Linked DNA regions of Homo sapiens. The protein of the gene in region 5 purifies or fractionates together with the protein of the main gene of each other region. This does not show direct contact. Each region holds a gene or a part of one and is shown on either strand. Other genes may lie near its edges. The genes, in order: TEC, UPP1, ALDOB, IMPA2, RPE, ALDH5A1 and ALDH2.

Region 1 (3,500 bases), on a different chromosome or scaffold from region 5:
GAGACAGAGTTTTGCTCTTGTTGCCCAGGCTGGAATGCAATGGCACGATCTTGGCTCACCACAACCTCTGCCTCCCGGGTTCAAGCGATTCTCCTGCCTCGGCTTCCTGAGTAGTTGGGATTACAGGCATGTGCCACCACGCCTAGCTAATTTTTGTATTTCTAGTAGAGATGGGGTTTCTCCATGTTAATCAGGCTGGTCTCAAACTCGTGACCTCAGGTGATCTACTTGCCTTGGGCTCCCAAAGTGCTGGGATTACAGGCGTGACCAAACATAACTTTTTATTTTCCTTGGAGTTAATAATGGATTTGTTTGTTCATTTTATTTATTTTGTGCTCTTCATTGATTAAACCCACAGCTCTTGGCCAGTTTTCCAAATTCTCCCTCAATTGACCAGGTATTTTGTCAATTTCGTTTTCCTCAAGAAGCTGTTCCTGAGCCTACTGGCTTGCTATAATCCAGACTGGGTGCCTTTGGTACATTGGCACACTTGTCACCCCAAGGGTTCCCTTTGTCATCATTCTGGAGATTCTCATCATTTGTCTCTTGTGTTGGATCTCCTGGTACTTGTAGCACATGTCTTCCTCAGTCTTGGTTGACTCCCTTCTTTTGGTAGAGCCCATCCTAAAGGAGCTTCCTGGAATAGGATGCCTAGAGGTCTACTTTTCTGAGACTGTAGATGCCTGAAAATGTGTTTTCAACTGACAATTGATAGTTTGACTGAGTGTAGATTTCTAAGATGGCAATTTTGAAGGCATTGTTCTATTGACTTCCACATTGTGGTATTGCTGTTGAGAAATTTAGAACTCTACTGATTCCTCAGCTTTTTCTTGTAATCTGTGTACAGGTTACAATTTGCTGGGTCCTCCCTGAAGTTTATAGAATTTTCTCTTGGCCTCCACAGTCCTAAAATTTCACGACACTGTGCCTAGGTTTGGGTCTGTTTTCATGCATTGTGTTGGGCTCTTTGAATCTGGAAACTTTCATTCTTCAGTTTGGGAAATTTTCTTAAATTATGTCATTGGTGGCCGGGCGCAGTGGCTCATGCCTATAATCCCAGCACTTTGGGAGGCCAAGGCAGGCCGATCACCTGAGGTCAGGAGTTCGAGACCAGTCTGGACAACATGGTGAAACCCCATCTCTGCTAAAAATACAAAAATTAGCTGGGCGTGGTGGCTCACCCCTGTAATCCCAGCTAGTCAGGAGGCTGAGGCAGGAGAATTGCTTGAACCCAGGAAGCGGAGGTTGCAGTGTGCTGAGATTGAGTCACTGTACTCCAACCTGGGAAACAGATTGAGACTTTGTCTCAAAAAAAAAAAAAAATATATATATATATATATACACACATATATACACACACGTATATATGTGTGTGTATATATGTATATATATACGTATATATGTGTGTGTGTATATATATGTGTGTGTATATATATACATATACACACACATATATATATATATCTATCTCATTGGTAATTTTTCCCCCTCTATTTTCTGTGTCTGTGAGAAGCTCATATTGTTCAGATATTGGCTATTTTTGACTGGGCCAAAAATAAGTTTTTCATGACTGTAATCATGAATATTTAAAATCAAAATCTCTATTTTTTTGGTTGCCTGAATATATACATATATATTTGTATGTGTGTGGTTTGTGTGTCTATTTCTTTCTGGTTTTTGTTTTATAGTGTCAGTGTCTTTTCCTTTCTCCCTAAGAAGCTTAATGATTTTTTGGAGCAACTTTTTTTCCTTCCTGCACAGATTGAATTTCCCAAGCGGCTTTTGTCTTTTCATTTGTTTAGGTTTCTTCTCTTTCATGTTAGAAGTTTTCCTTGTGTAACTAATGCCCTTGGTTATCTACTCACACTTCAGAGGGGGATTAAAAAGCAGAAGGTCTGGGGTTCAGGCAGGGTGGCTCACGCCTGTAATCCTAGCACTTTGGGAGGCCAAAGTGGGCGGAACACTTGAGGTCAGGAGTTCAAGACCAGCCTGGCCAACATGGTGAAACCCTCGTCTCTACTAAAAATAAAAAAAATTAGCCAGGCGTGGTGGCGTGTGCCTGTAATCCCAGCTACTCAGCAGGCTGAGGCAGGAGAATTGCTTGAACCTGAGAGGCTGAGGTTGTAGTGAGCCGATATGATGCCACTGCACTCCAGCCTGGCAACACAGGGAGACTCTGTCTCAAAAAAAAAAAAAATGCTGAAGATGTGGATGAGCTTGTCGACTGGGGAATTCATGGTAGGGGGAATCTGGCTGGGCTTTTTATTTGGGGAACCTCTGTGGTCGTTACCTCTTGGGCTGGTGAGAGTCCTCAGAGAAGCCTTTTCCATTCTTTTCCCCAGAGATTGACAGAGAGCCTGGTTGTCAGTAAGTGGAAAAGAAGACTGGAAGTCTCAGCATCCAGTATGTAGATGTGCATATAACCCCTCCATGCTGTTTGTGTACGGACCCCCTGAAGGGTGAAGGAGTAGGGAGGAAACTCCAGGTTTTTTGCTGGGGTAGAGAAGGGGCAGTCACCTAACTGGTTGGAGTGGCCAGAGGGATCTGTGGGATCCAGCTTTTTAAAAAGACTTTAAAAAGTCACTAATTTTTTAGCCCACCCCTCTTTTTATAGAGGGTTCAATTGCCTTTAATTATTTAACCTTTTGGAGATTCCATGGTGTAAATCAGATTATTTCTTGGCTTCTGCTTATTCCACCAAAATGTTTTTGCTATTGTCTCTTCACTCATTCTCTCCATCCTTGCTGATTTATACATGAAATAAAAAAATTTCTTTATTGTCATTGTCTTAGGCTTTCAGAAGGGAGAGAAAGTAGAGGTTTTTGTCCAGTCTGCTAATAGTGGCTAGAGTATAATTTCTTTACCAATCTCTATCCAGAGACTGGCACCATTCAGTCATAGCAGTGTGTTGCTGTTTTCCCCTTCCTCTACCCACAGGAAACATTTTCGGATCAGGCTGGGCCGCTGAGCCGAGTTTGGACCTCAGATGCCTTCATATACAACTCTAAGTGTACACTACCAATTGATCATAGTTGTCATAGGGGGCAAAACCTATATCTTAGGTTGGGTGGTACGTAGATTACTGGCATAGAGCCCTTGTTCCTGTTTCTTTCTTTCTTTCTTTTCTTTTTTTTGGCGGGGGTGGAGACAGTCTCGCTCTGTCACCCAGACTGGAGTGCAGTGGCATGATCTCAGCTCCTGGGTTCAAGTGATTCTCCTGCGTCAGCCTCCCGAGTAGCTGGGATTACAGGTGCACGCCACCACACCCAGCTAATTTTTGTATTTTTAGTAGAGACAGGGTTTCACCATGTTGGCCAGGCTGGCCTCGAACTCCTGGCCTCAGGTGATCTGCCTGCCTTGGCCTCCCAAAGTGCTGAGATTACAGGTGTGAGCCACCGCCTGGCCTATTGTTCCTGTTTCTTGAATTCACTTTGTGTAGGATGACTCTTTCTGCCATCTTGACCTCTGAATGTTTTACCTTTCAGTGAAGTGCAGCTTCT
Region 2 (2,972 bases), on a different chromosome or scaffold from region 5:
AGAGTTGAGAAGTCAGCCAGGAGCCTGGGCAACCCACAAGCCAGTGAAGACCCAAGACCCAGCTGCCCCTGAGCTGGGGACCTAGGCCTGCCCAAGTAGCTGCTGCCAGACTCACCCGAGACAGACAGAGGGGCCACCCTGGATTCTCCCCTCCACTATAAGGTGCAACCGAGAAGGAAGCTAAGAGACACGGAGTCTAGGAATGTCAGTGTGAGGCCAGGAATGAATGCAAGGCTGACAAGCCATGGACAGAAACAATAGGACAAGCTGTCTTGAGCCCAGGTGTCCCGTTTCCCATCCCTAGGTACTTGGATCAAGACACTAGCATTGTGGACAATGGGTGGGAGGATTACTGTCGTGTGATTAAGCTGGTGTGGATGGTTTTGGGAATGTGTGTGACTATAATTTGGAAACTGTGTATATGCCTGTTTAGGTACGCATTATTTCTCAAACACCCCTGCTGTCTGCTTCATTGGTTTTCAGTCATCTCTCATTGCAAGTGGTGCATGGAATTTTTTTAATGTATCAGGAAATTAGTTTCCTGGCACTATTGTCAGATTTCTTGTTTAGTGACATGAAATCTGACTACCATTAGAATTTTAAAGTCTGAAAAATTTCCCTAGAAATAGTACAAAAATTTGGTAGAATGTTCTTGAAGAAACCCCAAATCAGGCTAACATCATTGAAAATGCTCCAATGAAACTTCAAAAGGAAGAACATCTCCCATGCGGTTAATCCAAGATTCTCTGTCTCTTAATCGCGATCTGATTTTCTAGATTCTTGTGTAAAGTGTGCTCAAAGTCCACACAACAGGGGATTTTGGACAATGCTTTTAATGGCAAGTCATCACAGCAGGTCTGCGGAGGTGCAGGGCAGCGCTCAGGCCTTGCTCAGTTTCTTCTTGATGAAGTAGCTCACCAGCCGCTGCGGCCTCTGCTGGTACTCGCTGAGCACATTGCGAGGGCTGCTGATCTGGTCCCCTTCCAGGCGGTTCAGGAGGGTGACACACACCACGGCCGCTGCAAAGGACAAAGACCACATCAAGGCAAGGTGCCGGGGGTCTAACATTTCACAGGGACGGGATGAAGAACCCACGAGCTCTGAGGAGCAGCCTCTCTGCCTCCTCAGGAAACCAGGCTGCCCATGCAGTCAGGCGGGGCCGGAGGATGGAGTGCGGGAGGGAAAGGCGCTGGTCCAGGGGCTCGGAAGACTCCTCCCTCTCTGACACCACCCTGCCCTGTCCCTCCCTTATTCTCGTGCCTGCTTCCAAAAGGAATTCACCATTCCAGGACCAGCTCAGGGCTGCAAGCACCACCTTGAAAGGCACGTTTTGGCCGAGGTGATAAGGGAATTCTGCAGAGCTGTGAGCTGGCCTTCAAGGGTGGCTAGTACCTTGAGGGTAGATGAACCACAATTCAGAAAGCCAAAGCGCTTTGAAAGCCGAGTTTTTTATAGACCTGGTGGCAGCCTCATGGGGCAGCAAAAGCTTTTTTGTCATTTTTCCTGCACAAGGTCACTGAGAATCCTGCATTTTGTCAGGGTGTGACAGTCAGACATTGAACAGCATTGTGGTGACAACACATATGTCAGAAAGTGACTTGGGGGCAGCGGAAACAGAAACCAGAAATGGGTATCGGGGTGCCCCAGGAGGAGGGGCCCCAGCGAGGGGCTCCAGGAGAGCAGAAGTGAAGGGAGGAGGGGACGCCGAGGCCCATCAAGTGCCGCTTACCTTGGAGGCCGCAGGCGCTGCACATGGCGGCAAACACCGAGGACTCCATCTCGATATTGCGGACGCCGGCTGCATAGGCTGCCTCCAGATACGCCTGCTTGTCCTTCTCCGTGTAGGAGCAGAGAGCCCCATCCAGACGGCCTTGCCCTGAGGCACACATGGAGACATGAGAACCACATGCATGTGAGAAGCTCCTACAACACATCAGCGCCACTGATGCCCAGAAGGACACAGGGACAAGCAAGACCCATCCAGGTCCTGCCTATAATGACCACTCAAACGGGTCATTATAACCACTCTGGGCGAAGTGTAACTGAGACAGCAGCCTGGCAAGTGGAAACGCCAGTCCACAGCGAGAAGGCAGGCTCAGGGGACGGACCAGGGTTCCCTGGCTGAAAGATGCCTCCTCGTATCCGCTGCCTCACCTTCATAGAAGTCCAAGGTGCACATGGTGTTCCCCACCACTGTGGTGAACTCGCTCAGCTCTGCAGAACACAGCAACAGCTCCTGCACCAGCTTCTTGTTAAGGTCCGTTTTCCGGATGACCCGCTTCCCCAGGACAATCTGCTCAAACTCTGCCTTGAAGCAGGTATCCACTGCCTGCTCTGTTATGACCACAGTGCCGGGCTCCAGACCTGAGGAAAAAAGCAGACATCAAGATATGCAGGGTGTAAAACAAAATAAAATTAAAGCAGGGCAGCCAGGGAGCACACAGCAGAGCATATGGAAGAAAGAAGCAGATCCACCCACACATCCAAACACGAAGCATCCAGTACTGTTCTCAAATACACAGTGACCCATTTTTCCCATTCAACTTTTTTTTAAGCTATGAAAGTAATTAATGCATGATCATTATGGACACTATGGAAGAGAAAGGCACAAAAAACAAAGTAGAGGGCTGGGTGCAGTGGCCCACGCCTGTAATCCCAAGCACTTTGGGAGGCCAAGACGAGCAGATCACCTGAGGTCAGGAGTTCAAGACCAGCCTGGCCAACATGGTGAGACCCCATCTCTACTAAAAATACAAAAATTAGCCAGGCATTGTGCCGGGTGTCTGTAATCCCAGCTACTTGGGAGACTGAGGCGGGAGAATCACTTGAACCCAGGAGGCAGAGGTTGCAGTGAGCCAAGATCACGCCACTGCACTCCAGCATGGGCAAAAAGAGCAAACTCCATTTCGAAAGAAAAAAAAAAGAATAAAATAAAAATGGCCAGGAACCTTCAAGTACTTTGTCCCATATTT
Region 3 (3,500 bases), on a different chromosome or scaffold from region 5:
TAGACCAATGTGTTGCAATCCATAGCCACTGAGCACAACTAAACTGGCCTGTCTTCATCACCCCTAATCTAGCTTCTCATTCACTGCATGAATGACAGGCATGGCTCTGCTTCCTAGAAGCCCTTCATTCCTTTATTTCCATTACTCCCTTGGTCAATGTCATTCCTTATTGAGACTGCATTGCTTTAGCTATTTGGGGTCATCTAAACGGGCCTCCACTGTCCATGTTTACAGAAGCTGAGTAGTCATAGAATCATACATTTTAGAGGTGGAAGTGCTCTTAGATTGCATTTCAGTCCACATAATTTTCCAAGTAGAGAAACTAAGGTCAGGTGACATTATGACTCTCCTACTTTCTCACAGTGTATGAATAGAACCACCCTCTTTCAGATCCACTGTGGCTAATTTAGAAAGTCAGATGGAATAAAGTACTTTCTAATTACATCTTCTCATTTGAGCCACATGTCTTATTTTAAAATTTCTTTGTGTACATGTAATTGAATTGAAGTCAAAAGAGATAATATGACTTGCCCAAGATCCCACAAGTGGAAAAGCGGATTCTCCAACCCAAGTCTTGGTACTGCAACTCCTGTGCTTTTTCTATATGGAGTATACCATGTGCCAAAAAGGTGAAGGGCTGATGAGCACCTCCCTACCTTCTCTATGCTATCCATCCTAAAGGCTACTTCAGATATAACAGCTGTTATATGTTAAGTAACAGCTGTTACCTAAAACTAAGATTTTTCAACTAGAATTGGGGCCTTCATATTTAAAACTTACCTTCTCAGTAACATACTGGCAGTGTTCCAGGTCATGGTCTCCATCAGGAATTACCTCTGGTTCAACAATAGGTACCAGTCCATTCTAAAAAGGAAAATCAAGGAAGCAAAAGTGAAGCTGTGCTCACTGTTATCCTTTCCTTAGGAGGAGATTCAACAGTTGCAATTGGTATAAATTGAAGCCATTATGGAGAAATACTACATAGATGACTTAAAGACAGTAGAATTTTTCAGAATGAGATAAAAAATAAATACAAACCCGTAATTACTGTATTTCTTTCTAGAGATTATTCTAGCTGCCTCAGAACCTAGCTACTGCCTTTTTAGGGCATCTAAGCATAAATCATTAAGAAAGATGTCTCTAAGTTGGGTTAATGAAGAAATTCAAGCAGTGTTTAGAGTTCTAATTGGGGATCTCCAGCTGTCCACAACTCTAGTAACCCCAACATAGTACTCACAGAAGAAAATCAAACTTAACTCGGACCCAGAGACATTTTAGTATGTGTTGGAAACTTTAGCATCTGGTCACCATCCTCCAAAGAATTATTTGGATTGGAACTCGGTCAGAGCTGTCACTCTTCAGCTAGGAATCTAAGAGGATCATGTCTTGGATGTTACGGAGTATAGACAACCAAGTTCCCTGCCCTCAAAAGCCCGATCACTTATAAGACAGCTTATGGAGCTTTGACAGAGGGCAGCAGTTGATGGCATTATCCTTTGAACTCATAGCTTAGTTGGACTCCTACTGGCTTGTGGGACCAAATCTTTCCCTACCACAGTTGGCTATAGCAAAAGTTGTGAAAAATGCCACTAGGATATACTGGTGAGGGAAAAGGAGGTCCATTTGTAGTTATAGTATAATTGAAAAGAAAAGCTCTGAAGAAAACTCTAGCCTACTCTTTTTCAGCCCAAGGGGAAGGCAGAGCACCTGCTGACAGATGCTGGCGTAGCGAGCCAGGGCGTTGGCGTTTTCCTGGATAGCGAGGCTGGATGGACACTGGTCGGCAATCCTCAGCACAGCACGCCACTTCCCAAAGTCAACACCATCTTTCTTGTACTGAGCACAGCGCTCTGAGAGGCCATCAAGCCCTGCAAGTCACAAAAGAGAGAAAGGCTTCTTTGTACCTTTGTACCTGATCCATGGGGCTTCTAATAAAGGGAAGGAGTTCTCCCTTTGCTTAGCTTTCAATCCACTGTGCTTGAGGATTGAAAACAGCCAAGCATATCAGCATTAATCACAACACTGAACCAGAAGACTTAGATTTAATAAATAGTGTTTTGACATACATACTATCTACTCCATATATAGAATAGAAGAAACCAATAGTTAATATGATACTCATTTTACAAAGGTGGAAACTGAAGCTCCTAATGGTTAAGCAACTTTACCAAGTTTGAATTGCTCAAGAGTGACAGAGCTGGGATTCAAATTCTGCTTAGCTAACCCAATGTTGTGAGTTAATGCTTGTCTACTTGGGCAGAAGTACCTTGCAAAATTATCTAGGTAGCATGTGATAGAACCAGGATTCAAACCCAGGTGTGTCTGACCTCAAAGTGTGGGGACTTTCCACTCTACTGCTGCTAATTTTTTTCTAAAAATAATACTTCCGGGTGCAGAGTTTAATCTTCTTTGTCCAAGGTACTGTGGTAAGCACCTTATGTACATTGTCTAAGTTAATCCCCACAACATTTTGAGAAATCCCCATTTTGAGATAGGAGAACTGAGGCTCACAATATTTCAGTGACTGGCCCAAGGTCACAGTTGTTAAATGGAGGAGCTGGTATTGAAAACCAGGTACGTGTGGCTCTAAGACCAGTGTAATAGTTGTGTTTTGTTTTTCCTTGCTTCCTTCTTTACTTGCCTTCATTTCTAGCTTACACTGGCATGATTCATCTCAGTGGGCAATATCCTTACCTTGAATGGTGGTTTCTTTGTTTGTTCCTGCAAGAGGAGCACCTCCTTGGTCTAACTGTGGATACAAATAATTAACAGGTGTCAGATGTCAGGAAAACACAAGCAGAACTCTTGAACTAACTAACAGTTTGCATCTTTTACAGATCAAGGAGTTGAATTAGTAAAGTGTATTAGTGCGAGGGACCCAGTTCAGTCCATAGCAGAAGGGAAGTTACCTAGAAGGTACACTGTGAGAGTGTCTACCCTAACATTTATTGAGCACCTGCATGCACCAGGTGTTGTGTTAGTACAGGAGGTAAAGAGAATTAAGGATACAACCTCTACTCTCTACATAGCAAAGGCAAAAGTCATGAGCTTGAGAATTAGCCTAAACTGGCTCTGACCTTGCCTTGTTGTGTGGGCAAGTTATGTTACTCTTCGTAGTTCAGTTTTCTCACTTCATCTCTAAATAAGGGTAATAATTGAGTCTACTACCAGAGGTTATGAGAATTAAATGAATGCTTGGAATGGTAAAAACTCTTATTCAATGGATACTAGTTTTCACTTTTGAGAAGTTTATGCACTATTGGAAGACCTAGTTATAAGATAGAATAGTAAATGCTTCAATAATTATGATAGTTACCATTAACAATAATTACGCAATATAAACTTTTTCTTTTCTTTTTTCTTTCTTTTTTTTTTTTTTTAGACAGGATCTTACTCTTTTTTTTTTTGAGACAGGGTCATCCAGGCTGGAGTGCAGTGGTATGACCATAGCTCACTCCAGCTTCGACCTCCAGGGCTCAGGTGATCAATCTTTCCACGTC
Region 4 (3,500 bases), on a different chromosome or scaffold from region 5:
TTTCTCAGTGGGAACATTTACAATCAGATTCGAGGGCATATCCCATTTCATGGGATAAAGTGAATTAGGGAAAATAAGCTTTTACTTTACACTGAAATCTCCTAAATTTGAATTCATGGGATTATACAGGGCACAGGTGTGTAACATGATCTTGTTTTGGGCCGTTCTTACAGAGGAAGTTTCATGCTCTTTTCAAAACCCCTGTGTTTTTCTTTTACTCGAAGAGAAGTTGTTTCACAGGTGCAACAAAATAATTTTGAAATAATTTCAAGTAATGGAGAAATAATTTTTCTTGTAAAAGAATAATGGTGGAGTCATTAAGGCTCACTAGAAACCCAGAGAGCCTAGGCTGTGATATTAGCTCTGAGGTCAATGATGCAAGAAGTCAGTGACCCACAGAGCCACACCTGCTGCCCCCGCCGCCCCCCCCCCCCCCCCCCACCCAATGGCAGGCTGAATACAGAGGGGACTCGAAGGAGTGGATAATTCCTTTGCCTGGGAGGAGGATGTTTGCATGTTTAACCCAAATCCCGTACTTTTATTTCAGATCATCAGAAAAGCCCTTACTGAGGAAAAACGTGTCTCAACAAAAACATCAGCTGCAGATCTTGTGACAGAAACAGATCACCTTGTGGAAGATTTAATTATTTCTGAGTTGCGAGAGAGGTTTCCTTCACACAGGTAGGTGTACTCCTCTGGGAAACACCCCCAGTAACCCTGGCCACACTCATAGAGAATGCAGGGTCTGCCGGGGTCAGGGGGCTCTGCTGTTTGTTGATGTGGCCAGACGTGAAGCCCTAAGCCACGCAGCCTAACCTGCGATTTGTCAGTTACTTAGTAAGCAAACTCAGCCCTGTTTTCATTCTTTTTACTGTCATCTTAACAACCATCACGTCAATGCATCCTCTTGTGAATATTGAAGCAGCTCTTTTTACAACACATGCTCAGGAAAAGCTCCTTGCACCCCTGTACTCAACCATTTGTTATTTCTGGAAGGACCCACTAGAAGTGTGACCCACCCTAAGAAGCCTGGAGTGGTGATGTCCCCTGGTGGCCTATGCCTGTTCAGCTGCCTGGGCAACTTTCCCAGGAGGATGGGATGCCAAGTGGCACTGGCAGCCGCGTGGGGCCCCCGGCCCACCACTAGTGCTTAGTGATGCACGCCCCCTCGCCCAGGCCAGAGGGCGCAGTGGGAATGGCTGCCACAGCCGGGCCCCAGAGCTGTCCCTGCAAGAGGCCTGTATGAGCACCTCTTAACCTTTTTGGGGTCACCCTTTGAGTATTTGATGCTAGCTATTAATCTTTTGTTCAGAAAAATTAAAATATTTACACAGCATTTTGCATAGCATTTTAAGGGAGCCATGAACCCCAGATTGAGACATCTTCTTTAACTCTGGGGGGCTCTAAGGCCCCTCTCTCACCTCTAGAGTTCTGCAGTATAAATGCTGAAGACCATGCAAGGGATCTTTTTTCTTCGTTACATAGAATCTTTTAAAGATGTTGGATTCTTAAAACTGGAATACCAGTTATTGGATTTCTGGCTGTAGGGTATTATAACTGTCAGGTTCCAGGTTTAGATGGACTTAGGTGGCAGAAATATAGATGGTACTCTCCCTCAGTGTCCATTCAGCACATGGTAGGCTTAAAATACTTTTCTTTACATTTATTTTTATATATTTTTTAAGAGATAGGGTCTTGCTCAGTTGCCCAGGTTGGAGTGCAGTGGCATGATCATAGCTCACTGCAGCCTTGAACTCCTGGGTTCCAGTGATCCTCCTGCTTCAGCCTCCTGAGTAGCTGGGATTACAGGAGCCACTCCACCTGGCTCTTTTTTTTTTTTTTTTTTTTCTGTGAATGATTATATAAATGAAAGAACAAGCGAGTGTTAAACACTTACCTTCTTTTTTTTTCCCGTCGTTTCCTTCTAACTTGTTAGGTTATCTCAAGGTTACCAGCTCTCCCTCTGAATTTCTGTTTGCCAGTCGCTCATGTTTGTTTTGTTGACAACCTTTGAGTTTAAGCTTCTCTAACTTCCTATTTCCCTACTCTGCTTGAGGTCAGGATCCCAAGAATTGGTTACAGTAGTTATAGGGTGTAAAGTGTTTGTGATTTTTTTTTTTTTTTTTTGAGATGGAGTCTTGCTCTGGCGTCCAGGCTGGAGTGCAGTGGCGTGATCTTGGCTCACTGCAAGCTCCACCTCCCGGGTTCACGCCATTCTCCTGCCTCAGCCTCCTGAGTAGCTGGGACTACAGGTGCCCGCCACCACGCCCAGCTAATTTTTTGTATTTTTAGTAGAGACGGAGTTTCACCTTGTTAGTCAGGATGGTCTCGATCTCCTGACCTCATGATCCGCCCGCCTCGGCCTCCCAAAGTGCTGGGATTACAGGTGTGATCCACTACGCCCGGCCCCAGTGTTTGTGATTTTTAAAAAGCCTTTTAAAACCTAATTTTAGGGTGGCTCACACCTGTAATCCCAGCACTTTGGGAGGCTGAGGCGGGCGGATCACGAGTGAGGAGTTCAAGACCAGCCTGAACAACATGGTGAAACCTCGTCCCTACTAAGAATGCAAACATTAGCCGGGTGTGGTGGCGTGGGCCTGTAATTCCAGCTACTCGGGAGGCTGAGGCAGGAGAATTGCTTGAACCTGGGAGGCGGAGGTTGCAGTGAGCCGAGGTCACACCACTGCACTCCAGCCTGTGTGACAGAGCAAGACTCTGTCTCGAAAAATAAATAAATAAACCTAATTTTAATCAAAGGGCAATAGCAAAAGAATTTATCATATGGATTCTTTGAGAGGAAGCATGCTGCAGTAACGAGCCGGCTGTTTCCAGGTCCTTTATTAACCATATTGGCCTAGAGGTTTCTGCGGTGATGATCCGTGTGGCCGTGGCATGGGAGGGCTGGCTCATCTGCGTGGGGTCTGGTAAAGGCTTGGAGGAGATGCAGGATCAGGCACAGTGAAGTTATTGGGGCTGTGATGTGTTTCAGTCAGGTCACTTGGACAAACTGCACTCTGAGATTGCACGCAACCCACTGTTGGGTTAATGTGTGCAGTTGGTTCCATTTGTAAAAGGTAAATTTAGATACTCGCTGTTGTGTACACAAGGTAAAAGTTAATGTATTATGGGGTGAGCACAGGTACCTCCCTCCACCCTTGAGGCCTTAGGGTTGCCAGGGACCGCCAGACTCCAGAGTTCCTTGGGAAAACCATGATGCAGAGCAGGGGATTATAGGTAGGGTGAGACAGGCTTACCTGGGAGCGTGCCCGGGCTGAACACCAGCCTCCATCTCTGAAAAGGCCCCCTGGTAGGGTCAGACCCACACACCTGTCCAGGAATCAGTGATTGAAATCTGGGGTTCCCAAGCTCTAGCCCACAAGTCAGTGGACTGTGGCTGCACCACGGACAGCCCCAGTCTGTGTGTCACCCCCATCTTCCCTAGCTCTGAGGGTGAATGTGTGGACACGGTGAAAGCAGCTGTTCTCTTCTCTGCTCAGTGT
Region 5 (3,500 bases):
AAACACTCTCATCACGATTTCTTACCTTCATCCCATTCTCCCGAATGTCTTTAATCAAAGCCCCTGGGTTCTCAGTAGCCTCGAGATGAAAGGTGTACTGATTGGCTCCTGCTACAGCCATTGGCTTTACCCACTGTTCTGGCTTGGACACCATCATGTGCATGTCTAGAAAGAAAAGACACTTCAAAATATTACTGAAAAATACCTGGCTCATGTTATTGGAAGCCAACCTGTATGTAGTTTTTGCCACTTCTGATAAGAACTCTTTGGCCATCACACAAATCATTATTTAAATAGTTCTAATTCAGTATAGGTAGTTTCCTCTTATTTTGAAGACAAGGATTTATTTAAATTCATTTACAAAAAACACTATTTTCCCACAAAAAGCATACAGTGCTGTATATAAAAAGTTAACATCTAAAAATCAGGAAATCTAGGTCCAGGTCCAGGAAATGCCACTCTAAAAAACTTAAAGAATAAGTCATACTATCCATGCAAACTAGTTTCCTCTAGGAAAAATTAAGTGATCCTTTTCATTTATTCTTTCAATTTATCGAGCTATTGCTGCATCATTAATTATTCTAGGTCCTAGGGTTAGAGCAAAAACATGAAACTCTCCTGTCATAGGGATTACATTCTTAATGCGAGAGTCAAACAATAAACAAAATAAGTAAGTAAAATGCACACTAGGTTGGCAGTTAATATGGCTGGTGTGCCTGGGGAAGGAGATACACCAGTCAGAGGTCAGGGAAGCATGTGGTGAGGAGAAACCCTTCAGCATTCTGCAGGCCACTGGGAAAAACCACCACAGTGAAGTGACAAGATACTATCGACTGAGGAAGCTACGATAGCAATAACCCAGGTGAAAAATGATGGCAGCAATTCGGGATGGATATGTTCTTAAATAAGAGCAAAGAGAGCTGAGGATAGATGAGATGTGGAGGATAAGAGGATCCTCCATGGATAGATAGATGAGAGGAAAATAAAGATGGCATCAAGGATTTTGACCTTATCAACTAGAAGAACGGAACTGCCATTAATTGAGAGGCAAGACTGCAAGAACAAATTTAGGGGGAAGGACATGTTGACTGCAAGAAACCTGATATTCATCCTAATTCTAAAGCTTGATTCATATAAACACATAAGGTGAAAATGGGCATGGCCTTCTTAAAGATCTTGATTTAAAACATAATAGCATTTCATAAGAAGGAGAGGGCAGCTTAAAACAAGCTAAACCAAGAAATAACACTGTGAAGAATCCTGTGTTTGATAGATGGTAGTGAGGAGAGGTTTTAAGTTTTTTATTTTGCTAGAGGAAGCACATTTCTGAAACAGCCAAGCTATATTTAAGAAAAAAATTCTAACATTTCAGAACAATTATGAAATACAATAAAGCCTTGAAAAAAAAAAGTCAGAAAAAGAAAGTATAAAGCTTGACTAATAAAGTCAAGATTAACGTTTGTATTTCTAATCCAGCAAAAGTAATTGTATGAGAACTTTTTTTTTTTTAATAGAGATGAGTTCTCACTGTTTCCCAGGCTGGTCTCGAACTTCTGGCCACAAGTGATCCTCTGACGCTGGCTTCCCGAAGTGCAGGGATTATAGGTATGGGCCACCACACCCGGCCTAAATTAGAACATATTTTAATAGGTAAAACTTTATTCTTAAAAAAATGTATTAAATCTGGTGTTTCTTATTCTTTGCATCATAAACAAGGAAAATTCAAGCCGGTTTAAAATACCTACTCCAGGCCGGGCGCGGTGGCTCACGCCTGTAACCCCAGCACTTTGGGAGGCCAAGGCGGGTGGATCACGAGGTCAGGAGATCGAGACCATCCTGGCTAACACGGTGAAACCCCATCTCTACTAAAAATACAAAAAAATTAGCTGGGCGTGGTGGCGGGCGCCTGTAATCCCAGCTACTCGAGAGGCTGAGGCAGAACAGCGTGAATCCAGGAGGCGGAGCTTGCAGTCAGCCGAGATCGCTCCACTGCACTCCAGCCTGGGCGACAGAGCGAGACTCCATCTCAAAAAAAAAACAAAAAACAAAAAAACCTACTCTATTCATTCCTTAAGTTACCAGACTGCTAGCTATGTCATCCTTACTCAACCTCTAGCATCCAGTAACCACTAGCAACCCTCAATGGAGAAGTTCTATGGTGTTCAGGGAGTCAATGGTTCAGCAAATCTGTGCATAGTTAACATTAGATCAGCAATTCCCAATCATTCTATCATCTATTATAATCATAATCTATTATTCATAAACTTGGTCAACAATATGCTGATTAAAAAGAATCTAAGGTCTATTAAATTCTAAGTTACATTAAAAAAACACTATATATGGCTAGGTGCGGTGGCTCAAGCCTGTAATCCTGGCACTTTGGGAGGCCAAGGCAAGTGGATTGCTTGAGCCCAGGAGTTTACACTCTTAAAAATTATTAAAGACCCCAAGAAACTTCTGTTGATATGGATTATATTTATAGATATTTAATGTATGAGAAATTCAAACTAAGACATTTTAAAGCATGTAATTTTTGGCGGGTTTGGTGGCTCACACCTATAATCTTAGGAGGCTGAGGAGGGAGGATGGCTTGAGCCCAGTTTGAGACCATCCTGGGCAACATAGTAAGACTCCTTCTCAACAACAACAGAATAATTAGCTAGGCATGGTAGTGTGCCCCTGCAGTCCCAGCTACTGGAGGGGAGAGGTGAGGTGGGAGGACTGCTGGAGCCCATCAAGACTGAGGCTTCAGTGAGGTATGAAGGCCACCACTGCACTCTAGCCTGGGTGACAGAGCAAGACTGTCTCAAAAAAAAAAAAAAAAAGGATAACTCTATTACCTATTAATTAAGAGTGGTATTATTTGTTTTACATTTTTGCAAGTTTTCAGTGTCTGGCTTAACAGAAGACACCTATATTCTCACATCTGTTCTGTATCTAATCTGTTGTAATACAGATGTTCTGTAACTTACAATGGGGTTACATCCCAATTAACTCAATCTAAATTGAAAATACTGTTATCTCTAACTGCATTTAATATACCTAACACACCAAACATCATAGCTTAGCCTAGCCTATCTTAAATGTGCTGGGTGGTAATTTTATAAAGGTTAGCTGCAGTGTGCACTCTGTAAACCCTATCAATGAGCTTTTCATTCTTTGTTACATTAAAACCCATTGTTTGTCTTGTATTTTGAATGGGTCTTTTAAGTACTGATTTACTGAGTTACACACATCTTACAAATAGTGACAGATTTCATTCCATAGTACCCCAAAATCACATTTGGTAAAATAACTACAGATCTCATCAGAAAAGCTTGTTAACTGTTGGGACGCTATCAAACCCAGAGTGGTAAGATACACAAGTTTTTTAAAATTCTAATTTTGGGAACAAAAACTGACAAGGTATCTTTCCTTGAAGAGACAGCCTCATTTAGTTAATATTTTTTAAATGTCATTAAAATAGCCAGGTCTGAAAAACCATAGTTGATCTGTCAGTT
Region 6 (3,500 bases), on a different chromosome or scaffold from region 5:
ATGAAATCTCTTACTGGATATTTAAACTATAATAGCTATAGGTACCAAAAGCCTTATGATTATACATTGAGCTAGCAATTCTACATGTTCATCCTGACAGAATCATCACAGTGTTTTTGTCTTTTGTTTTGTTTTGTTTTTGAGATGGAGTCTCGCTCTGTAGCCCAGGCTGGAGTGCAGTGGCGCGATCCACAGCGTTTTTTTAATGGCAAGGATGGAAACAACCTAAATGTCCAACAGATGGGGCCTGAATAAATAAATTACAGAAGAGCCATGCAGTGGAATACTATGCAAGCATCTAAAGGAATGTTCTAGGCCGGGCACAGTGGCTCACACCTGTAATCCCAGCACTTTGGGAGGCTGAGGCAGACAGATCACTTGAGGTCAGGAGTTCAAGACCAGCCTGGCCAACATGACGAAACCCCATCTCTACTAAAAATACAAAAATTAGCCAGGTGTGGTGGCACATGTCTGTAATGCCAGCTACTCAAGAGGCTGAGGCTGAAGAATTGCTTGAACCCAGAAGGTGGAGGTTGCAGTAACTGGAGATTGCGCCACTGCACTACAGCCTGGGCAACAGAGCGAGACTCCATCTCAATAATAATAATAAATAAAGTTCTAGAAACATATGTGCTGACACAAGAGGATCTTCACATTAGAGTGTTACATTAAAGGAGCAAGATATAAAGGGTTATGAAAATTTTAAGATAGACGTCCCAAATATGTGATTCATTGGGAAGATAAAGCAGGTTACGAAACGGTATAATTATATAATTATACCATCCTGTTTTTTTTTTTTTAAATGTACATGTACCTGAATCTGCATGGCTACATTCTAAATGGATGTACTTTAAAATGTTATCAGTGTAAGCTGTGGGTTGTGGGATTCTAGGTGATTTTATTTTCTTATCTCTATGATTTTTAAGCCCATCATATAATTGTTTTGAATAGATAAACACTTACTTATATGGTTGAAAAATTAAGACAGTATTAATGTTTACCATGACAAGTCTCACCCTACCCCAACCCTGACTCACTCCCTCTTTCTATAAATAATGACTTTTAGTGTCTTGTCATCCCAGTGTTTATTTTACTAATTTATTTATTTATTTAATTTTTGAAATGGAGTCTCCCTATGCTGCCCAGGCTGGTCTGGAACCCCTGGCCTCAAGTAATCCTCCCACTTCAGCCTCTTAAGGTGCTGGGACTACAGGTGCACACTACCACACCCAGCCTCTTCCCAATGTTTCTTTATCAAATACAAGCAAATGTAAATATATATTCTTATTTCTCCGTTTTCTTATGCAAAGTTATCCCATGTACACCACTGTGCACCTTGCTTTTTTCACCATTTGGTAATTTTTTTAAACAAAGGCTTAACAATCCTGGTAATGGATTTCTGTGCTCACAGCTTTCTCTCCTCTGCTCACAGATCCTGTTGCACCACGCAGCAAACTCTGTGAAAAGGGTCTCTATGGAGCTGGGCGGCCTTGCTCCATTTATAGTATTTGACAGTGCCAACGTGGACCAGGCTGTAGCAGGGGCCATGGCATCTAAATTTAGGAACACTGGACAGGTGAGTCCTGGAGAGTATTTCAGGATGTGTGTTTGCGTGTGCATGTGTGAGTGTGTGTATGTGTGTGTGTGTGATATGTGTGCATGTGAGTGTGTGTGTGTGTGCGTGTGTGTGTGTTACAAAGATCCCACCACCTCTACTGCCTTATATCCCATAAGGAAACTTTTGGGTTCCTTCCATTATTCATTCTTTATTCATTGACTCTTTCAGCAAATATTTAGTATATGCCTTACTTTTTATTACCAGGGTTATACTAGGCTCAGAGGGGCCCCCCCAAAATAAGGTACAGTCCCTGGCTTCAAATAATTTTCTGAACAGCAGATGTCCTTTAGTCAAATTGTTCTCTGTTTTCTTCTTTCCCCTATCCTTTTAATCTGGTTATTTTTATAGTTTTCTTTCATTGATCTTTTTTCTACTGAACGGATATAATCTCCTCAGACACAGAACAGCCTTGAACAATTGGGGTCTCTGAGGCCAAGGGAAAGAAAGTAAGAAAATGTTGAGGAGGGTGGTGGCTGGAATAACTCAAAACCCTGTTGCCTGCTATGACCCAGTGGGGCCTCGCTGTCCCGAGATGGAGGGAGCCTCAGAGGTGCCCTCTACAGGGCACAGGCCCACGCCAGCAGTGTTTTAGAGGAGCATCCAGGCTGTCCTGGGAGACCAGAGGCCTGAGCTCATGTCTTCCTAGGAAATCCTGGAATATTTGATCTGTCAGGGACCTTCACAGTTATCAGCTCTACAAACGTTGCATTTTAGAGATGAGGAAATGAAACTCTAGAAAGAAAAAGTGACTTAGAGATCAGACGTCTTTGGGCCACAGTGTCAAATCTGCTGAGGAGCTGGGACTCTGAGCCAAGGCTCCTGTCTTCCAGTTCTATCCAAGCTGCTGCCAGGGTCCTGCCTTCTTAAATATTCTTAAGCATTCATCTTAAAAGTACCATCAATATGTAATTTTAAATGCATTCTAGAAACAGAGTAAATATCCCTGAAAGGTTATATTGTGAAAAAACTGAAATGTGTGATATTCTCTATCAAATAATTTTCATCCTTGCCTTGGCCTTTGGTAATTAAGTTTTTCCCTTCCACATAACCTAAATAAGCTTGGTTTTGTCTGAAATAAGTATATTTTCCTTCATAAATACAAAATGTCAATATATGTTACCATCAATTACACTGTAAGGCTACAACTTGGGGACAGGTATGGTGGCTCAGAACTGTAATCCCAGCATTTTGGGAGGCCAAAGCAGGAGGATCACTTGAGCCCAGGAGTTGGAGACCAGCCTGGGCAACAGAGTGAGACTCTGTCTCTACAATTTTTTTTTTTTTTTTTTTTTTTTTGTGTGACAGAGTCTCACTCTGTTGCCCAGGCTGAAGTGTAGTGGCATGATGTCAGCTCACTGCAACCTCCACCTCCCGGATTCAAGAGATTCTCCTGCCTCAGCCTCCTGAGTAGCTGGGACTACAGCTAATTTTTCTATTTTTAGTAGAGATGGGTTTCACTATGTTGGCCAGGCTAGTCTCGAACTCCTGACCTTAGGTGATCCACCCACCTCAGCCTCCCAAAGTGCTGGGGTTACAGGCATGAGCCACTGCGCCCAGCCAAAAAAAATTAAAAATTAGCTGGGCATGGTGGCAAGTGCCTATAGTCCCACCTACTTGGGAGGCTGAGGTGGAAGAATCACTTGAGCCCTGGAGGTCAAGGCTGCAGTGAACTCATCACTACTGCACTCCAGCCTGGGCGACAGAGCGAGACCCTGTGTCAGCAAAACAAAAGACTATAAGTTGGTGTTGGACCACATTCCTCTTAGCCTCTGCTGTTGCTGCAGCATCACAGTCTCCTAGGAGAATTGCACTCTTTCCCCACCCCCCAGGGAAACAAAATAAAAGCCATTTGAAAAAAACATGGATTGGGTGGCTTTTTTTT
Region 7 (3,500 bases), on a different chromosome or scaffold from region 5:
CAACTACTTGGGAGGTTAAGGCAGGAGGATCACTTGAGCCCAGGAGTTTGAGGCTGCAGTGAGCTGTGATCACACCACTGCACTCCAGCCTGGGTGCCAGAGAGAGACTCGGTCTCAAAAAACAAACAAAAACCCACTGTTGTTCTAAGTGAATGCTGTCAGGGGAGGGGCAAAGACACAGGGAACCCCAGCGAACAGACTCCTTCTCCGTCCCATTTAGAATTCCCATGTAGTGCCCCATACAATTAGCTTCTGACCACATGTGTCCTTGGCAGACTGTCCCACCCTCTCTGAGAAAGGATGTGTCTTCCCCTGGTTGAGCCCTTCAGAATAGGAGGGTGACTCCCAATGTCCCCTGGCTGTTTGCTCACAGGCTGGCTTTCCCCCTGGTGTGGTCAACATTGTGCCTGGATTTGGCCCCACGGCTGGGGCCGCCATTGCCTCCCATGAGGATGTGGACAAAGTGGCATTCACAGGCTCCACTGAGGTAAGGTGACCCTGGCCTCAAGCTTGCAGCCTCCTTGGCCCAAGCTCCCCCTGTCCTCAGTGGACGACATGCTCAAGGTGAGCTCCCGGGTGTCAAGCGGAGGCCTTTTCCTCCAGGACGACCCTGTAGGTACCAGGAGGGGTGGGGCAGGGTTGAGCCCTTCGTGGTCTGGTTGCCACACTAGCTGCCCTTGGGAGGGGCCAGTGTCCCATGTGGACTAAGGAGGCCAGGCCTGGCCAGACTCCACATAGCCCAGAGCTGACCGCTTGCCCCAAATCAAAGCATCTTGGCCAGGTCAGACTCCTTGACCAGGACTGCCATTGTGGTTAAAAATTAGCCTTGTGTGGTGGTGTGTGCGTGTGGCCCCAGCTACTTGGAAGGCCGAGGCAGGAGGGTTGCCAGAGCCTGAGAGGTCAAGGCTGCAGTGAGCTGAGATCACGCCACTGCACTCCAGCCTAGGTGACAGAGCGAGACCCTGTCCAAAAGAAAAAAAAAGTGAACGTCTATTTGGTGAAATTCTCTAGGTCTCTCGTGGTCCAGTTGCTCACTCAAGCTGTGGGGGACTCTGTTCTGTGTCTATAGAGTGCTGGACTCTTTTCTCCCGGCACTGAGAGCTTGTTCCTGTCTTTCTGTCCCCACAGATTGGCCGCGTAATCCAGGTTGCTGCTGGGAGCAGCAACCTCAAGAGAGTGACCTTGGAGCTGGGGGGGAAGAGCCCCAACATCATCATGTCAGATGCCGATAGTGAGTTTCCAGCTGGAGAAGGCCTGGCCTTGAAGGTAGCCCTGGCCACCTGTGTTGTGGCTCCAGCCGATCCTGTCGCCCCCCCAGTGCCCAATGGCGTTGGTTGCTGTCCCTCGGGCCTCAGGATAAGACGCCAGCGCAGGGCCTGCATGGCCTGGCCTTGGCCTGTCCCCAGCCTCTCCCTGGCTGCTCTCTGCATCATCAGGCTAGGCCACGCCCCTGCTATCTGACTCATCCACTTGCCGCCATCACGCCCTTTGTCCTGGTTGGCAGTGGGCTCCGAGAGCACCCCTCATCTCCCTGTATCTGTCTCTGGCACCCAGCAGGCATCAACCCTTACAGTGGTGGGAACAGGCTCCATTGGGCAGGCGGCCACCAGGGCCAGGGTCCTCCTCCTCACTGTCACCTTTCTGTCTCCTGCCCACTTCCCGCAGTGGATTGGGCCGTGGAACAGGCCCACTTCGCCCTGTTCTTCAACCAGGGCCAGTGCTGCTGTGCCGGCTCCCGGACCTTCGTGCAGGAGGACATCTATGATGAGTTTGTGGAGCGGAGCGTTGCCCGGGCCAAGTCTCGGGTGGTCGGGAACCCCTTTGATAGCAAGACCGAGCAGGGGCCGCAGGTGAGCCAGGCAGTGCCGCAGGGTCTGGGTGTCTAGAGCCAGCATGAGAAGCAGAGAGGGCATCGGGCTCAGATCAGTTGGGACTGGGTTCAGGTCTCAGCTCTACCACACAGCAGCTGTGTGCCTTTGGGAAGCTATGTTCCCTCCCTCAGCCTTCATTTCCCCATCCCGAGCCGTGCCCTGCCTCATTCACAGGGTGGCTGTGATGTAGAAATTAATCCTGGGAAGCACTTTGTAAATTGCATATATGTAACAAATACCAGGAGTGTCTGCAAAAGGGAGTGTGTGTTTCCAAGACCTTGGTCATCAGTAGAAGTGTATCCACCAGAAGATACACAGCTCTGTGAACCTTCGTGTCTGAGAGCCATGGTATGGCTAGTATAGGGACTTTATTTCACTTCATGTTTTGAGCTGTTTGATTTTATTTATTTATTTATTTACCTATTTATATTTTAGAGACAAGGTCTCTCTTTGTTGCCCAGGCTGGAGTGTAGTGGTGCAATCATACCTCACCTCAGCCTTGAATTCCTGGGCTCAAGGAGTCCTCCTGCTTTGGCCTCTCAAAGTGCTGGGATTACAGACATGAACCACCACACCTGGCCTGGATTTTACTTTTGAGCAGTTGTAGGTTTATAGAAAAATAGAGCTGAACGTACAGAGGGTGCCCATATATTCCTTCGCACCTCCCTGTTCCACCAGTTTCCCCTTTATTCACATCCTGCATGAGTGTGGTTCATCTGTTAGTATTGATGAGCCAATACTGGTACCTTATTATTCACTTAGGTCTGTAGTGTATATTCGGGTTTTTTTTTTTAATTTTTATTTTTTTTGGAGACAGAGTTTTGTTCTGTCACCCAGGCTGCAGTGCAGTGGCACGATCTCGACTCATGCCTCCCGGGTTCAAGCAATTCTTGTGCCTCAGCCTCCTGAGTAGCTGGGACTACAGGTGCGCACCACCACGCCTGGCTAATTTTTTGTGTTTTAGTAGAGACAGGGTTTCACTCTGTTGCCCAGGCTGGTCTCGAACTCCTGAGCTCGGGCAATCTGCTGTCAGGCACCCAGCCTCGGGGTCATTTTTTGTGTTGTACTTACTATGGGCCTAGACAAATGTATCATAATGTGTATGATACCATCATTCTAGTATCATATAAATATATTTGTGCCCTGAAACCCCCGTCCTCCACCTATTCTTCCCTCTTTTCCTCCCCTGAGCCCTGGCAGGCAACCACTGATTTTTTTTTTTTTTTTTTTTTTTGAGACAGAGTCTCGCTCCGTCACCAGGCTGGAGTGCAGTGGCGTGATCTCGGCTCACTGCAACCTGTACCTCCTGGGTTCAAGTGATTCTCCTGCCCCAGCCTCCTGAGTAGCTGGGACTTACAGGTGCATGCCACCATGCCCAGCTAATTTTTGTATTTTTAGTAGAGACAGGGTTTCACCACGTTGGCCAGGATGGTCTCGATCTCCTGACCTCGTGATCCACCCACCTCAGCCTTCCAAAGTGCTGGGATTACAGGCGTGAGCCATTGTGCCTGGCCGATCTTTTTATTGTCTCTATAGTTTTGCCTTTTCCAGATTGTCTTATACGAATCATACAGTAGGTAGCCTTCTCAGACTGGCTTCTTTCTTTTAGCAGTTTGCATTTCTGATTCC

Evidence for each region.
Region 1: the proteins of RPE (region 5) and TEC fractionate together in Homo sapiens (co-fractionation; one large-scale study listed by BioGRID). This does not show direct contact.
Region 2: the proteins of RPE (region 5) and UPP1 fractionate together in Homo sapiens (co-fractionation; one large-scale study listed by BioGRID). This does not show direct contact.
Region 3: the proteins of RPE (region 5) and ALDOB fractionate together in Homo sapiens (co-fractionation; one large-scale study listed by BioGRID). This does not show direct contact.
Region 4: the proteins of RPE (region 5) and IMPA2 fractionate together in Homo sapiens (co-fractionation; one large-scale study listed by BioGRID). This does not show direct contact.
Region 6: the proteins of RPE (region 5) and ALDH5A1 fractionate together in Homo sapiens (co-fractionation; one large-scale study listed by BioGRID). This does not show direct contact.
Region 7: the proteins of RPE (region 5) and ALDH2 fractionate together in Homo sapiens (co-fractionation; one large-scale study listed by BioGRID). This does not show direct contact.

The regions. Positions count from the first base shown.
Region 1 is NC_000004.12:48,263,339-48,266,838, reverse strand, and holds part of TEC (tyrosine-protein kinase Tec), read left to right. Parts: intron 1-3,500.
Region 2 is NC_000007.14:48,106,265-48,109,236, reverse strand, and holds the end of UPP1 (uridine phosphorylase 1), read right to left. Parts: intron 2,365-2,972; coding exon 2,155-2,364; intron 1,877-2,154; coding exon 1,730-1,876; intron 1,020-1,729; coding exon 880-1,019; 3' UTR 501-879; downstream 1-500. UniProt on the Homo sapiens protein: Catalyzes the reversible phosphorylytic cleavage of uridine to uracil and ribose-1-phosphate which can then be utilized as carbon and energy sources or in the rescue of pyrimidine bases for nucleotide synthesis.
Region 3 is NC_000009.12:101,425,775-101,429,274, forward strand, and holds part of ALDOB (fructose-bisphosphate aldolase B), read right to left. Parts: intron 2,750-3,500; coding exon 2,695-2,749; intron 1,869-2,694; coding exon 1,708-1,868; intron 865-1,707; coding exon 781-864; intron 1-780. UniProt on the Homo sapiens protein: Catalyzes the aldol cleavage of fructose 1,6-biphosphate to form two triosephosphates dihydroxyacetone phosphate and D-glyceraldehyde 3-phosphate in glycolysis as well as the reverse stereospecific aldol addition reaction in gluconeogenesis.
Region 4 is NC_000018.10:11,998,507-12,002,006, forward strand, and holds part of IMPA2 (inositol monophosphatase 2), read left to right. Parts: intron 1-547; coding exon 548-681; intron 682-3,500. UniProt on the Homo sapiens protein: Phosphatase that can use myo-inositol monophosphates, myo-inositol 1,4-diphosphate, scyllo-inositol-1,4-diphosphate, glucose-1-phosphate, beta-glycerophosphate and 2'-AMP as substrates in vitro.
Region 5 is NC_000002.12:210,012,638-210,016,137, reverse strand, and holds part of RPE (ribulose-phosphate 3-epimerase), read right to left. Parts: intron 166-3,500; coding exon 26-165; intron 1-25. UniProt on the Homo sapiens protein: Catalyzes the reversible epimerization of D-ribulose 5-phosphate to D-xylulose 5-phosphate.
Region 6 is NC_000006.12:24,518,969-24,522,468, forward strand, and holds part of ALDH5A1 (succinate-semialdehyde dehydrogenase, mitochondrial isoform 2 precursor), read left to right. Parts: intron 1-1,432; coding exon 1,433-1,576; intron 1,577-3,500. UniProt on the Homo sapiens protein: Catalyzes one step in the degradation of the inhibitory neurotransmitter gamma-aminobutyric acid (GABA).
Region 7 is NC_000012.12:111,790,933-111,794,432, forward strand, and holds part of ALDH2 (aldehyde dehydrogenase, mitochondrial isoform 1 precursor), read left to right. Parts: intron 1-373; coding exon 374-487; intron 488-1,128; coding exon 1,129-1,231; intron 1,232-1,665; coding exon 1,666-1,850; intron 1,851-3,500. UniProt on the Homo sapiens protein: Required for clearance of cellular formaldehyde, a cytotoxic and carcinogenic metabolite that induces DNA damage.